Regions from separate parts of the Homo sapiens genome. Here region 2 is linked to region 1. The links come from fine-mapping of genetic effects on gene expression. A gene starts in region 1. The other region holds a variant in brackets. All regions are shown on one strand. Distances are between the middles of the regions. Region 1 holds the start of STX7 (syntaxin 7). Region 2 overlaps STX7 (syntaxin 7).

Region 1 (5,391 bases):
CAGGGAATGCTGCAATCATGGAAATGGCATGAAGCCTGGAGCAAAGTTCTCAGATTAGAGCTTCAAATATTCAGTGGTGGCTTTGACAATAATAAAGTTGAGAAGACCTGGAGATAGAAGATCCAACAAGGAGGCTATTGCAGTGGATCAGGATGTCAACCGTGAGGGACAGAGAGAAGAGGGCACATATGAACAACACTTAGGAGGTAAAATTAGAAACGAAAATACCAGTCATCAGGAGGTAAAATTAGAAACAAATATACCGGTCATCATGCTATAATGGCCCATGTAAGATTTCCACGGGATATCTGTTTATTACCTCCATGTTCAAAAGCTAGGGCAAAATCAATTCTGTGCTTGATATATGACTAGGCACTTGTGTGATCTTAAACAGAAAACAAGTAGACTGTAGAGAGACATGGAAGGTGCTTAACAATAAGGCACAACTGAACTAACTCTTGTTTATTAAGTATTAATTTAAGCTTCCTTTTAATCTAGCATAGATTTTTTAAACCAGTTGTGGTTTTCCCACTGTATTATAAATAAAAACAAACCTTCATAAGTCAACTTGTCCTTCTCACTTACCAATAAGTCCCTGTTTGCTCTATTTACCTTTATGCGTCTTTTACTTCTTTGGCTTTCCCAGAAGATCACATAGTGGTCATGTAAAAAATATTTTTAGTTCAGTAACTATTAAATGAACCAGCAATTATCTCCTTCTATTCCCTGGAATTGCTATCCCAGACACTGGAGATACAGCAGTGGACAGTTCTCCATCCTACATGAGAGATGTTACATAGGAGGTATTTATGGTATTTATATTAATAAGGACACCACAAGTGTGCAGATAACATTCCCCACTCAACAACTTCTGGTTTCCTTCAAAATCTCTCCAAGAAGGCCCAAATCTCGCAAATTACTATTTCTGAAAATCCAAATTACAAGCTTTCAGTCATAGGTAACTTCTGCACATGGAAATGATTTATTTTGGGAGATGTGACATTATCACTCATCAAATTAGGAGACTTTTAAAGCCCTACCACTTTCAAGACACCTGGCTGAATTTAACTTGGTAGCAGCCAGATTCACAGATGGAATACTGTGTCAGGAACTCTTAGTAATTCATTTATCTTAATACTTCTAAATTTTGCAAGTTTGTCTAGACTATAATTCTTTTTTTTCCCATTTGAATACCAAAGGATGAAATCTTATTCTAAGTTTTCAAAAGACCTGGAAGGAATCCACTCATAACATATTTTAAAACAAGGAATTGGAATGAGCCCAAGATGAGGGCTCAGACAGCTAAGTTTTGGGCCCAGCATAGTCAGTAACTATCAGGGTAACTTGAAGAGGCCACTTAATCTCAGGTTCTTCTGTAGTGCATTGTACCTTCCCTCCCCGGAGCCCAGAGTTCTATCAAAGGTAATATGAATGGGTATTTGGAAAGTGCACTAAACCTCACATGGATGTAAGATCCTTTCATGTGTTCCTTCAATGATTGAAATGTTTCTTCCTACGTTCACCAGCCACTTCCTAATTCTCAAGTACAATGCACTACTTTCAGTTCTTTATTTACTTGAACTTTGTGTAACAGGTGACATCATGGACAATTCCCTCCTTTTTTCCTTCATTCTCTAGTTTACCTTTTCCTGGTTTATTTCCTATCTTGTGGGTTACTCGTTTTCAGGGTTATTCTTTCTCTGTCCATCTCTCTTAAGCAGACAACATTCCACACTTAGTGTTGGTGAGTTCCAATCAGAATTCTATCCTGGGTTTTGTTTTTTTCCACCTAAGTGCGTCTGGACTTTTGATATCACCTATCCGGGTAATCATTTTAGAAAATAGTGTTGCCTTAATATAGGCAAAGGCTAAGCCAATCTATCTTCTAATTAATTTGGAGAGGGCTTTCTTTCATTTGTAGCAATTGATGCTTTTCATCTAACAATTACAATATATTTGCATATTTATCATTGGAACTGTCTCTGCTTGTTTTAAACCCTGTGAAAACTACGCCCTGCTTTTCAGGAATGCTTAGAATGACTTGTATGTACTAGGAAAACTTGTTTACAAGTGAGCACCCAGAGATGACTCTTCACTTATTCCTTCATTGTTCCTGCTAGGATTGTGTACTCGCCTTTGCATTTTTCGATAGAGCTGTCAACGCGATCTACTGCAGTTAAAGGTTAGCAAACAAGACAGGCAAGAGCTAATGGGGCGGGGTGAAGACCCGCGTGCAAGAAGGCTGGCTTCACCAGATAAAGAAGACAACTGTCCTCCATTCTGTCCTTTTTTGCACGCAGGCTAAGAGGCGTTCACCATCTCTACGTCAGGCTTCAAAGAACAGCTCCCTTGCAATTTTGCTGATACCCCCATTCCTTAGCTTGGAACCGGAGGGGCGGTGAGGGCCGCTGTCACTCAGCCCCGCGGGCCAATAGAAAAGGGGTGAACCCCGCCTTCTTCCTGAGTTGTGCTGCGGGCATGCGCACTGGGCGTCCCCACGCCACCGCCCATCAGCTGAGAATTGCAGCTGAGGGCTCCGGGGTAGGTGGGTGACGGCGGTCGGAGGTGTAGGAGGGAGCCGTGGAGGTCCAGGTAAGAGGACCCTGGGGAGGGGGCTCCCTGGCCGGGCGACAGGGAGGCGCGGTGCCCCTGCGGCTGCTGCGCCTTCTTGTTTGTGCGCGTGGTCAGGTGGCCGCCGCCCTGCGCTCTGCAGCAGGCACTCGGGAGGCTAGGAAGGGCGGGACTGCCCCAGCTCCCGGAGCGCCTGCGGCTCCCCACGCCCCCCGGCCGGGTGCAAGGGCGCGGCGCGTTCCGCATTCCGGGTGCGCGCGGCTGTGGTCAGGTGGGCCTACCCAGCCACGCACCCGCCGCGGTCCCCTGGGCAGAGCTCCGGAGGCGCACGGCTGGCGGAGCGCACCCCGGGGAGGGCGCCAGAGCCGGCTGGGGCCCAGCTCAGGAATCCAGACACGACCAAATGACCTCTTCCTCTTTTCAACTCACGGATTGAAAAACACACTAAACTTCCCGAATATAGAGGAACTGAAAAATGTATGGCTGTAGCAGGCGAACCGTGTATGTTTATTTATTCAGAGGATCGTAGTATTGTTTTTTTAATTTGGCTTGATGACTTTAACATACTTTGACATTCTTTGAGTATACACCTTTAATTAATTTACATAAAAACCTTTAAACGTACATAAAATATTTCTAGTATTTCCTCCACCTTGTTTTCTAGTTACTTTCTTTAAATTCAGACAAAGAAAAAAAGTTGCATTTCTGATCAAATGCTGTGTGTTTTTTCCCACAAATTTCTTACATTTGTTTGGCTCTTATCTGTATACGTTAATTTTTGTTTACCTCAGATCGTTGTATTCTGACTATAATTATATATAATATATAAAACTTGCCCAGAATCTGGAAGAAAAGAAAGTAATTATGAAATGCTGTGCTATTTAATAATGTTGGAAGTGGACATTTCTTCTGCAGGTTCTCTGAGCACACCTGGGCAGAGGCTGATAACGGTGTTAAACTGTGTTTTGTGTTGTGGACAGGCCTTATAGGCTACTTTGAGAAGTTGGCCTCAGACTCGTGACTAGTTAAGAATTATGCTCTTAACTTCACAGTTTCTGTAGAGGTTAATATGATACCATATTAACTGATTAACATCATAATTTTTCCTCAGATATGTTACTTATGTTGCTCTTGATAACAAAATCAATCCTTATTTTGGTTATGACCCCAAACTTTAAGTGCTGATGATTGAAAAGTAAATTATAGAAAATATTCACAGTAAGTCTGAGTGAAGTTTGCTGTGATTCCATTTAATTTGCAAGTTTCATGTGTGAAAGTATGAAAAAAACAATCCTCGGTATTGTGAACTAAAACCAAGTAGTACAAAAGGTCAGTGATGAAAGAGCTAAGGCCAAAGAATACAGTTAATGTAGTTTTTGCAGAGGATACTTATGTAGACAGAGCACCCTCACATTCCTTGAGCATTTACTATGCACCAGGCACTGTAGATTACACAGGATGACAAGGTCATCTCTCTCCTGTTTATATTCCAGAAGTAGCTCCTGTTTGTATTCCAGAGGTGTAGGGATAAATAATAAACAGTGATTAATTCGACTTTTGAGTATTGTGAAGCAGTAAGTTAGATTGACAAAGAGTGACCAGTGGTGAGTTCTCACTTTCATATCAGAGTGGTCACAAAGGTTTCTCTAGCATGTGATGAGGCCTTGCTGGGGAGAAGGAGCCAGTCACGTGGAGATCATGGGAAGAGCCTTCTAGAAATAGGAAATGGCACCCAGCAAAGGCCCAAGGCAGCAAGAAGCCTGGGACCTTCGGTATCTGAAAGAAGGCACTGGAATTTTATGTTTTGGAAATGGTAATATTTACCCTCACGCTGGGTGTGTGTTCTTAGGAGGTGGGTACATTCATTCATTCTACAAATGTTTGTTAAGCACTTGTGATGTAGCCAGGCAGTGAGAATAGTGCAGTCCACAAAACAGACAAAAAAATGCTCACCCCCCACCCCTCAGAACTTACTTGGGGTAGAGGGTATAGAGAAGTCCAGTTGTTTATGCTGATGCTAATGATTAAGAAAGTGAAATTGACTACTTCTTTGCCCAGGGTAGATTTATAGAGCATGAGATATATGCTAAATGGAAATCTTAAGGATTCTACAGTATATCGGATTTTAACTGGGAGTAGTGTTTGACACTTCAAGATTAAATTTTAACATTCCTTTTGTTCATTCCTTTGTGTTCTTTAGAAGCCGTCTTGAGAAGACTCTCATCTGAGTGTTGCACTTTGATTCTCCCTTCCTGTTTTTCTCTTTATAGTGTTTGTATATCTTCATAGAAAGATGATTATTGCAATGTGGAGATTAGCACTGTGCAATAGATCTTTCTGTGATAATGGAAGTGGTCTATGAATGAGCTGTCCAAGCTGCTGGCCACTAGCCACACAGAATTTTTGAACATTTGAAAGGTGTCTAGTGTGACTGAGGAACTGATTTTTTTCATTTAACTTAATTTTAATTAATTTTAATTTTTTAAAAACGAGAGCTACAATGTAATTTAAGTGATACACAATATAAAATGGTGTAAATTGTCACATGAAAAAATGAAATGTAGAGTAAAAGTGTAGTTTCTTACTGCAATCAGTTATCTTGTTAGCAGCTTAAAATAACCTGTAATAAGATTTTTTTGCTTTTATTATTTTAATCGACAGATAATGATTTACATATTTGTGGATACATGTGATACATCAGTAGATGTGTACAATGTGTAATGATCAAATCAGGGTAATTAGCATATCCATTACCTCAAACATTTAACATTTCTTTGTGTTAAGAGCATTCACAATTCATTCTTTCTTCTAAGTATTTGA
Region 2 (5,316 bases), 55 kb after region 1:
CATACTTTGTTATTTTTATTGGGGGGGTTGGGGTGGTTCCTTTGGATTAAATCTGATATTTTCTAATACTGAAAGATTTTCTAAATGTCACTGCTGACATAACTCCCTTGGTCTTCAATTTAATAGTTGTTAAGTTTTTGCCCACATTGCATATGCCTTTCATTTATAATTTATTTACCCTGCTTGACTTAGTTTTGGGAATTCGTAAATTTAAAGGTGTGTGTATTCTGTTTGCATCTCCCTGTCACTGTGACACACCTAGATGTGTGTTACTTCAATTAAAATTCTCAAATTTAATTTTGATTTGCTTCAGCAGGGAAAATATTCTCAATAATGTAAAATAATTAAGGTCTATACATGGGTTGTATTTTTCTGGTTCACAACAGCACAAAGTGTCTTTCATTTTTTTGTTGGTTTTCTTTTAAGATCTTTTTTACCCTGAAGTCGGTGAATACTTTTCTAGTTTATTTGATACTCTTTCTGTGTATATATTAAGCTTTTGCTGTAGATTGCCTAGTAAAATTACTAAGGATAGGTTGTTTTTACATATGGTCTATTTAAGTCTGATGTTTACGGGGGAAAGTGTAGTTACTAAAAATGTTTAACATAATTTGGAAGAAGAGTATGAACAACCAATACCAATACCTATTGCGTTTGGATTCTTAAGACCCCAGTTTGTTATTCCACTAAACTAGTTATCTTAACCATATCATCTGGTTTTGTGGGCCATTATTTACCTTCCCTTATGTCTTATAGAATAATGGTTAATATTTTTAGGTCAAAATTACTTTTGGAAAGTAACTTTCCCACAATTAACTGTTTTTGAGCACCTGACAAAATTTAGTGTTTACCTTGCGTGCCATTTTGTGTCATCCTTCATTAAAAAAGCAATTGGAGGTTTGCCAGTTATCTCACTTCCCTTTTTAAATCAATGTTGTTTTAATGCACTAATCTGAATTCTGTAAAGAGGATTATCTTAGTTTATACTTTGTATTTTATAATGTTCTTGTATAGCAGCTCGGTACTGAAGGCGGTGTTTAACTTGGCAAGCTCTGAGACTTCAAATGGGAACAAATAGTAAGTAGCTAAGTAAACCACATCTTTGCAACCAAAATAAAGATGAGTTAAAAGGTATCTGGTTAGGCCTATTTCATGAGGACTATGCTCTGGTGGGACCACAGGTCACCTGATACTTAGTGCTGTGCTGCCTGAAACCTCAGCATGGAGACATCACCACATGCACTGTGGCCATTCAGCATCTTTCTGGAGCACCAGTTCACTCCAGGTTTTTATTTTAGGGTGTCATCGATTTTACCTACTTTGTCAGACTGGTAGAAGTTGCTTTGCATATCAGAAAAACTCCATTTTTTTCCACAAAAGGGATTACAGAAAACTCTTTTGTGAGTGAGTGATTGGAACTTAGAGACTCCTGTTGCCAGAATCAGACTGCCCTAGAACAGAATGGACAATGCAGGGAGGAGAATTCACACAAACAGCACCTGTTCTGAGGCCTGTGCCAGCCCACCAGGCCTGCTCAAATGTGGTCTTTACTTCAAGTGCACAGAGGCACATGAGGTTTCTGGTGATAAACCAGCGTCTTACCGCTGTTTTAAAGTCCCATCCCCATGGCTTTCACAATCAGTTCCGTTTTTTTTGCTGTACTTGATAAAATGTTTATTCTCATACAGGTCAAGTACATTTACTTCTATTCACAGTGAGTACCCAATAACAACAAAAGCGCTTACAAATTTGGGGGGCGTGATTTTAGTACCTTTATTTGAAGTGTAATCATTTTAAATTATTATTATTTTAACTGGGGCAGTTATCAGTGGTTTAAACAGGAACTTTAGTGGCTTCAATTTGTTTAAGAAACATATTAAGTTTGAGGGAAAAATTTCCCATGAAATATTTGGAACGTAAGAGTAGTATTGATTAGAGAAAATTAAATAAGAAACATAGTATGGTAGCCAAATTTTTTAAAAAATCTTGAACTTTTCTGTAGGTCAGTTTTAGAACTGCTGTGAAAAGTGAAGGTTGCCCTGTGGAGATTAAAATTAGAGTTGTTTTCATAACTGACAGCATGGTGAATCCATTTGAGTCAAAGTGAAGAATTTCCTCATCAAGTGACTATACATTTGTTTTTGTGTGCTCAAAAGAAATACTCAAACACAGACTGATATTAACCAGCCAGGTAAATTGAACGACAATGTGGCATTAGGTATTTGGCTGTTTATTGGTCGTTAAATACTATGGTTTTGCAATATGATTGATGGTAAAAGAGTGATGTCATATTGATACTAGAGTAGCTTGTTTTTTTAGTAGGTGTGGGACCATCTCTTTTACAAGTGCAACTCAGTCTAGGACAGCCATGGATGCAGTGTCTGGAGTTGGACCCTCTGAGCCCGCTGGCTGCCCCAGTAGCATCTGCATTGGTGACCAAGGACACTGCACTTTGAAGAGGTCGCCACTGGGTTATTTAGTGTCTTCACTGCTTTTGTTAAAAATTGTAAAATTTTGTACACAAAAAGTTGTGTTTTTGAATATCAATTGTTTAGACACACCTACAATGATAAATAAGTGCCTTTAAAGGCCCCTCTTTCCATGAAATACATCTGTGGTTTAGCAAGGAAAGTACAAAATAGTTTATGTAGTTGGTATAATTTTTATTTGTGTCTTCATGTAGAAAAAATGAATGTCATAATAAAATATAAAACTTACGTAAAGAAAATAAAGTCATTGTCC[A/G]CCTTAATAGCTAAGGTCCACAAGGGTAACTTATGCAGCATTTATTTTTTTTGAAAGTCAAAATTGAATTTATTTCTTTCACATGGCTGGTTTGCTGCAATATGAAGTTTCAGAATGGGCTGAAGTAAGTTGATTGAGGGATTTGAGTTGAATGACATTTTCAAGTTCATTTAAATATGATAAAAATTCATTGGTGGTAAATAACATCTGTCTTTCCTGGAAAAAAAAAAGTTGTGTATTTTCATGATTCAGTTAAAACAAAAAATGAGCCTGTGAATCCCAGGCCTTTTTAGTCCTCCATAACATTTGAACAGTTTGACTTGTCAGCAAAGAAATACACTTATCAAATTTTAAACCAATGGGAGCCTGAAAGTGTTACAGTGTACTGCTTCTTTGACAAAATTCTGTTTAACAACTACCCTAACATAATTTATAAATCAATTAAGATAAAACCATTTTTTTCTGAGTATTTAGGAATTTGTGTCCTCAAAATACTGTGACATGAAAGATAGGAAAGAAATTACCTGGTTGCCAGACATGCACGATTATCTTTCCTCATTTCAGCTGGATTTTCCAAAGTCAGTAGATTGGATAAAGCAGCATCTCATTCACTGAGGTCACAAGATAGGTAGGAAACTTCTTTAATGTGAATTTTGCATATTTTAACAATTCAGTTAGAAAAACAGAAACCACTTGATGGATTATAAGTGTAAAGTGTTTTAACATAGGGAATTAGACATCAAAAGGGTGGGTGAGGAAGGTGTCTGCGGCCCCAAAGTGGGTGGATCTCAGGAGCTGGCCCAGGCACTGCTGTGACTCTTGAGAACATCCAGAAGGCTGTGCTGTTGGCGTGCAGCACTGACAGTGTGTCTCAGGGAGCTGTCCCCAGCTGTCAGCTGTTAATAGCTCCAAAGCCAGTGCCTTGCAAGAGATTTTGAAACTGCTGTGAAACTCATGTCCTCTGCCCGCCTACACTTCTGTCTGCAGTGGCCTCTGAGGAAAGATGGTCTCTCCTTTTCTCATGGTCAACTCTCAACTTAGAACCAGAGACAGAAGGAGTTTGTGGGAAGTGTGGTTTCTGGTCTACCTGCACTGCAGAGGACATTCTAGAAAGAGAAGTGAGTTGACAGTCTAGCATAATTGTGAAACAAACACTGAGATGTACAGTTCAAACCACGTGAAGTGGAAGCCTCAGAATTTTCCTCACTTTCATTAAAGATTCTTTGATGGAAAAATTTAGAAGCATTGGCTCTAGATGGTAAGCAAGTCATTTTTTTCCAACCAAAATAAAAAATACATATACTAAGCTTCTGGGGCCCCAGGACTTAACACAGTTTCCTTCCTTCCTTCCCTTCTTCCTTCCCTCCCGTAGTAGTTGCTTAATAAATACTTAATTTGGCACTTATTTGGGGCCGGCTTTTTGCCAGGCTACTACATGCCTGGGCATAGTGTTCTAAGAGTGAACCAAAAGAATAAGCTTCCTGCCCTCAGGGAGTTTATGTTTTGTTATTTGGCATATAAAAAGAACTTGGTGTGTTAAAAGAAGGGAAATAGCTGTGTGAAAGGAATGAGGCAAGGAAGAAAGGGAATGTCTAAATATAAATCTCCGTTTGGACCAGCCTCCTGTTTATCCAGTTTTCCTTACTAAGTAACTGAATTTCATTTTCTTTTCTTAATTGACAGACTACCAGAAAATTGCTAGTTTTCTAAAGAGAAACTACTGATTTGAGTGATGATCTGTGTGTAATGGCTCCAAAAAGGAGCCGTTCTCTTGGTGGCAGCAGTTGGATTCAGAGCTTGGGCATCCTGATCATCAGGACAGACATTTACAGGATATGTATAGAATTACTGCCCCAAATAGAGGGCAAAGCACTAGACAGAAGGGTGAGATCCAAGGGGAATTTGGAATCTATATTTCATCAGAATGCACTCAAAGCAAAAACAGTAAGTATGCTCCATATAAAGAAATGTTTCTTAAAATGTTTTTAATTTAACCCTACCCATCCCTTGGCAAATCTTTTTCTTTTAAATCAAATAGGAATAAAGAAGAAAATCTTCCTATTGGCCCATTTTCTCATTATTCAAATACCATATCAATACACCAATTTTAATTCTTTGTTTTTGTAATCATTTGGTTAACATGAATATTATGTAATATTTTTCTCCAAATAATCCTAATTTTAAATGCAGAAATAGAGCTAAATAACACACTAAATAGGTTTTTGTAGACACTGTAGCTTCTGGCAAGTTTTTAAGAGGTTGGTCACTTAATTGCTTAGAGTGGGATTCCCGTAGGTTTTGTGTAGTGATGGCATTTATGCTTAAAATGTAAGTGGTGGAAGGCAAAACCAGATTTCCTGTCCAGTCGTTACACGCACAACACCTCTACTTGTTGACGAGGGAGTTTTCTAGAACTGAATTGAATCTTTAAATAAACTTGAAAGGGCATTAATTCCCACTTTGGCCAACCCAAAGTACAAATTTTTAAGTGTTTACTGTAAGTATCGTTAGGCAGTAGTTACTAACTCCAACACCTAATAGCATTGGTAGAAAGCTTATAAATGCAGTTATTTA

What was found. PIP is the estimated chance that this variant, and not a neighbour inherited with it, causes the effect.
Region 2: its variant is fine-mapped to the expression of STX7 in whole blood (INTERVAL, PIP 0.99).

The regions. Positions count from the first base shown.
Region 1 is chr6:132,510,208-132,515,598 of GRCh38, reverse strand. STX7 (syntaxin 7) reads left to right here and starts at 2,483. Exons shown (of 10, transcript NM_003569.3): 1 at 2,483-2,592. RefSeq lists enhancers at 2,177-2,376, 2,734-3,235 and a silencer at 2,527-3,016.
Region 2 is chr6:132,455,331-132,460,646 of GRCh38, reverse strand. STX7 (syntaxin 7) reads left to right here. Exons shown (of 10, transcript NM_003569.3): 10 at 1-5,316. Among named protein-coding and RNA genes, the nearest start is that of STX7, 55 kb to the left of the region's middle. The variant A/G (reference allele first, on the strand shown) is at 2,743.